2 separate regions of the Homo sapiens genome follow, and region 2 is linked to region 1. The links come from fine-mapping of genetic effects on gene expression. A gene starts in region 1. The other region holds a variant in brackets. All regions are shown on one strand. Distances are between the middles of the regions.

Region 1 (2,903 bases):
CCTCTTCCCCACCACAAAAATCCCTTGCTGAATTTGATTACACTTAAATTAACGAGTTTTGTTTCATGAAAGACTCCTTGGACAAACTTGACAGTTGATGGAATAGGAGAAGCTGTCTGTCATGTCTAAAGCCAACAAGAGATCAATATCTAGAATAAATGGAGATCTGCAAATCAACAGAAAGTAGGCAGCAAAGCCAAAGAAAATAGCCTAAGGCACAGCCACTAAAAGGAACGTGATCATGTCCTTTGCAGGGACATGGGTGGAGCTGGAAGCCGTTAGCCTCAGCAAACTCACACAGGAACAGAAAACCAGCGAGACCGCATGGTCTCACTTATAAGTGGGAGCTGAACAATGAGAACACATGGTCACATGGCGGCGATCAACACACACTGGTGCCTGTTGAGCGGGGTGCTGGGGAGGGAGAGTACCAGGAAGAATAGCTAAGGGATACTGGGCTTAATACCTGGGTGATGGGATGATCTGTACAGCAAACCATCATGGCGCACACACCTATGTAACAAACCTGCACATCCTCTACATGTACCCCAGAACTTCAAATAAAAGTTGGACGGCCAGGCGTGGTGGCTCACGCCTGTAATCCCAGCACTTTGGGAAGCCGAGGCGTGCAGATCACCTAAGGTCAGGAGTTCGAGACCAGCCCGGCCAACATGGTGAAACCCCGTCTCTACTAAAAATACAAAAATCAGCCAGATGTGGCACGCACCTATAATTCCACCTACTCGGGAGGCTGAAGCAGAATTGCTTGAACCCGAGAGGCGGAGGTTGCAGTGAGCCGCCGAGATCGCGCCACTGCACTCCAGCCTGGGCCACAGCGTGAGACTACGTCATAAAATAAAATAAAATAACACAAAATAAAATAAAATAAAATAAAATAAAATAAAATAAAATAAAATAAAATAAAATAAAAAAATAAAATAAAATAAAATAAAATAAAGCAATTTCCTTTCCTCTAAGCGGCCTCCACCCCTCTCCCCTGCCCTGTGAAGCGGGTGTGCAAGCTCCGGGATCGCAGCGGTCTTAGGGAATTTCCCCCCGCGATGTCCCGGCGCGCCAGTTCGCTGCGCACACTTCGCTGCGGTCCTCTTCCTGCTGTCTGTTTACTCCCTAGGCCCCGCTGGGGACCTGGGAAAGAGGGAAAGGCTTCCCCGGCCAGCTGCGCGGCGACTCCGGGGACTCCAGGGCGCCCCTCTGCGGCCGACGCCCGGGGTGCAGCGGCCGCCGGGGCTGGGGCCGGCGGGAGTCCGCGGGACCCTCCAGAAGAGCGGCCGGCGCCGTGACTCAGCACTGGGGCGGAGCGGGGCGGGACCACCCTTATAAGGCTCGGAGGCCGCGAGGCCTTCGCTGGAGTTTCGCCGCCGCAGTCTTCGCCACCAGTGAGTACGCGCGGCCCGCGTCCCCGGGGATGGGGCTCAGAGCTCCCAGCATGGGGCCAACCCGCAGCATCAGGCCCGGGCTCCCGGCAGGGCTCCTCGCCCACCTCGAGACCCGGGACGGGGGCCTAGGGGACCCAGGACGTCCCCAGTGCCGTTAGCGGCTTTCAGGGGGCCCGGAGCGCCTCGGGGAGGGATGGGACCCCGGGGGCGGGGAGGGGGGGCAGACTGCGCTCACCGCGCCTTGGCATCCTCCCCCGGGCTCCAGCAAACTTTTCTTTGTTCGCTGCAGTGCCGCCCTACACCGTGGTCTATTTCCCAGTTCGAGGTAGGAGCATGTGTCTGGCAGGGAAGGGAGGCAGGGGCTGGGGCTGCAGCCCACAGCCCCTCGCCCACCCGGAGAGATCCGAACCCCCTTATCCCTCCGTCGTGTGGCTTTTACCCCGGGCCTCCTTCCTGTTCCCCGCCTCTCCCGCCATGCCTGCTCCCCGCCCCAGTGTTGTGTGAAATCTTCGGAGGAACCTGTTTCCCTGTTCCCTCCCTGCACTCCTGACCCCTCCCCGGGTTGCTGCGAGGCGGAGTCGGCCCGGTCCCCACATCTCGTACTTCTCCCTCCCCGCAGGCCGCTGCGCGGCCCTGCGCATGCTGCTGGCAGATCAGGGCCAGAGCTGGAAGGAGGAGGTGGTGACCGTGGAGACGTGGCAGGAGGGCTCACTCAAAGCCTCCTGCGTAAGTGACCATGCCCGGGCAAGGGGAGGGGGTGCTGGGCCTTAGGGGGCTGTGACTAGGATCGGGGGACGCCCAAGCTCAGTGCCCCTCCCTGAGCCATGCCTCCCCCAACAGCTATACGGGCAGCTCCCCAAGTTCCAGGACGGAGACCTCACCCTGTACCAGTCCAATACCATCCTGCGTCACCTGGGCCGCACCCTTGGTGAGTCTTGAACCTCCAAGTCCAGGGCAGGCATGGGCAAGCCTCTGCCCCCGGAGCCCTTTTGTTTAAATCAGCTGCCCCGCAGCCCTCTGGAGTGGAGGAAACTGAGACCCACTGAGGTTACGTAGTTTGCCCAAGGTCAAGCCTGGGTGCCTGCAATCCTTGCCCTGTGCCAGGCTGCCTCCCAGGTGTCAGGTGAGCTCTGAGCACCTGCTGTGTGGCAGTCTCTCATCCTTCCACGCACATCCTCTTCCCCTCCTCCCAGGCTGGGGCTCACAGACAGCCCCCTGGTTGGCCCATCCCCAGTGACTGTGTGTTGATCAGGCGCCCAGTCACGCGGCCTGCTCCCCTCCACCCAACCCCAGGGCTCTATGGGAAGGACCAGCAGGAGGCAGCCCTGGTGGACATGGTGAATGACGGCGTGGAGGACCTCCGCTGCAAATACATCTCCCTCATCTACACCAACTATGTGAGCATCTGCACCAGGGTTGGGCACTGGGGGCTGAACAAAGAAAGGGGCTTCTTGTGCCCTCACCCCCCTTACCCCTCAGGTGGCTTGGGCTGACCCCTTCTTGGGT
Region 2 (2,903 bases), 740 kb after region 1:
CCTAGTTTGTCACCTTGTAGGGGGCAGTTGACACTTTGCTGGCCTGACTCGTGGTGTGCCAGAGCCCGTGGCTGCTGGGCGACTGTGCCTCTTTCTCTCAGTGGCAAGAGCCTTATTTTCTAATAGAGCCTGATGGGCCAGAGGTTCCGCCACAGGGACACTGTTCTCTGTCTCTCGTGCTTGGGGTCTCTTGCTGTGGACCCCCTGGGAGGTTGTCCTGGGGGTGCGGGGATTGTGTTTTCTGGGTATTTTCTTATTTGCTCTATTGGAGTGTATTTAATTTAATATATATATTTTAAACATCTTTTAGTTTGCCTTAATGTAATTTTTTTTGAGATTTAATTTTTTTTTTTTTGAGATGGAGTCTTGCTCTGTCGCCCAGGCTGGAGTGCAGCGGTGTGATCTCAGCTCACTGCAAGCTCCACCTCCCAGGGTCACGCCTTTCTCCTGCCTCAGCCTCCTGAGTAGCTGGAACTACAGGCACCCGCCACCACGCCCGGCTAATTTTTTGCATTTTTAGTAGAGACGGGGTTTCACCGTGTTAGCCAGGATGGTCTCCATCTCCTGATCCTCCCGCTCGGCTTCCCAAGGTGCTGGGATTACAGGCGTGAGCCACCACACCCGGCCTGCTTTTTTTTTTTTTTTTGAGTCTTGCTCTGTTGCTGAGGCTGGAGTGCAGTGATTCAGTCACCGCTTACTGCAGCCTCTACCTCCTGGGCTGAAGCAATCCTCTCACCTCAGCCCGCAAGTAGTTGGGACCTCAGGTGTGCACCACCACGCCCAGCTGATTTTGTTGTTTTTTGTAGAGACAGGGTTTCACTATGTTGCCCAGGCTGGTCTTGAACTCCTGGGCTCAAGCGATCCACCCACCTCAGCCTCCCAAAGTGCTGGGATTACAGACATGAGCCACTGCGCTGGGCCTTAATGTAGTTTTTCTTGTGGTTAAACTGAGGTGAAGGTTCACTCAAGGAGGAAAGTGGTTTTTAGCCTTTTGAGGGGCTCAAGGACCCCTTCAAGGATATGACAACGGCTCCTCTCCTGAGAAGGTGCCTGGTGGGGGCGGCACAGGCTCCACTCCACCCCATTGCAAGAATCCAGGGCCCTGCAGGGCTCAGAGCCCTCTCCCTGCCTCCCTGTGGGGCATTGAGAGGCACTCACCTTCTGAGGGCCTCAGTTTCCTTTTTTTGTAAAATAGAACCAGCTGATTCCAATCTCTATGGTCTCTTCTAGCACGGAGCTTCACGTTTTTTCTCCCTTCAGGATCCTGAGGCCTCTGGATCGCTAGAGATTGGGGGTGCCCCCAGAAGAGGCGCTGCTTCTGTGCCCTCCCTCACCCCACCGTGCCTGGCTCCTT[GT/G]TTTTTTTTTTTTTTTTTTTTTTGAGACAGGAGTCTCACTCACGCCCAGGATGGAGTGCGGTGGCACGATCTCGGCTCACTGTAACTTCTGCCACCCTGGTTCAAGCGATTCTTGTGCCTCAGTAGCTGGGACTACAGGCATCTGCCACCATGCCCAGCTAATTTTTGTATTTTTAGTAGAGACAGGGTTTTGCCACGTTGGCCAGGCTGGTCTCGAACTCCTGACCTCAAGTGATCTGCCTGCCTCGGCCTCCCAAAGTGCTGGGATTACAGGCGTGAGCCACCATGCCCAGCCTGCCTGGCTGATTTTTTAAAATTTGTCGTTGAGATGGGTGTCTTGCTTTGCTGCCCAGGCTGGCCTTGAACTCCTGGGATCAAGCGATCCTCCCACCTCAGCCTCCCAAAGTGTTGGGATTACAGGCATGAGCCGCTGTGCCCAGCCTATTTTATTATTATTATTATTTAATTTTATTTTTTCTCACTATTGCCCAGCTCCTGGCCTCCAACTCCTGGGCTCAAAGGATCTTCCTGCCTCAGCCTCCTGAGTAGCTGGGACTGCAGGCATGTGCCATCACACCCTACTTTGTACTTTTGCTTTTCTGTCTTTGCTCTTGTTAAAAGCCAAGTGCCATTTCATAGTACACAGGTGCACTTGACAGCATTTACCTGATTGAGGAGTTTTTCCAGCCTTCATTGCTATTACAAAGCATGCTTGCTCGTGTGTCTCTGCATGTGTATAAGTGTTTTTATAGGATACATTCCTAGTCAAAGAGTGTGTCCATTTCTGTTTTTAAAGATATTGAGGCCGGGCACAGTGGCTCATCCAGGTAATCCCAGCACTTTGGGAGGTTGAGGCAGGAGGATCACTTGAGTCCAGGAGTTCGAGACCAGCCTGGGCAAAATTGGGAGACCCCCCATGTCTACAAAAAATTTAAAAAATTAGCTGAGTATGATTGCACACTCCTGTAGTCTCAGCTACTTGAAAGGCTGAGGTGGGAAAATCTATTGAGCTCAGGAGGTCAAGGCTGCAGTAAGCCATGATCACAGCACTGCAACAGATCTAGCCTGGGCAACAGAGCGAGACCCTGTCTCAAATACATACATACAAGCATACATACATACATAACTCCTAAAAGGCTGTAGCAGTTCATACCTGCAAGCATCTACGAGAACACACACTTTCCTATATCCTCTCTGATGCTGGCAATTACAAGATTTTGGTTTTTGGTGTTTTCTTTGGTCCAGTTTGGTTAAAAATTATAACACCTTTTGATTTGCACAACCCTCATTTCTGGTTTATTGGTATTTACTTTTCTGCAAATTGCCTACACTTATCCTTGGCCCATTTTTCTGTTGTCTTTTTCTTTTCTTTTTTCTTCTTCTTCTTTTTTTTTTTTTTTTGAGACAGAGTCTCGCTGTGTCCTCCAGGCTGGAGTGCAGTGGCGCGATTGCCATCTTGGTTCACTGCAACCTCTGCCTCCCGGGTTCCAGCTGTTCTCCTGGCTCAGCCTCCCAAGTAGCTGGGACTACAGGCATGCGCCACCACGC

The links. PIP is the estimated chance that this variant, and not a neighbour inherited with it, causes the effect.
Region 2: its variant is fine-mapped to the expression of GSTP1 in activated naive CD4 T cells (Schmiedel 2018, PIP 0.95).

The regions. Positions count from the first base shown.
Region 1 is chr11:67,582,448-67,585,350 of GRCh38, forward strand. It overlaps GSTP1 (glutathione S-transferase pi 1), which reads left to right and starts at 1,365. Exons shown (of 7, transcript NM_000852.4): 1 at 1,365-1,397; 2 at 1,687-1,722; 3 at 2,017-2,123; 4 at 2,238-2,325; 5 at 2,691-2,794. The coding sequence starts at 1,397. RefSeq lists silencers at 965-1,584, 1,135-1,277, 1,595-1,744.
Region 2 is chr11:68,317,718-68,320,620 of GRCh38, forward strand. The region is part of intron 1 of LRP5 (LDL receptor related protein 5); the gene reads left to right. LOC124900302 (a long non-coding RNA gene) reads left to right here. Exons shown (of 2, transcript XR_007062749.1): 1 at 1-2,903. Among named protein-coding and RNA genes, the nearest start is that of LRP5, 6.6 kb to the left of the region's middle. The variant GT/G (reference allele first, on the strand shown) is at 1,355.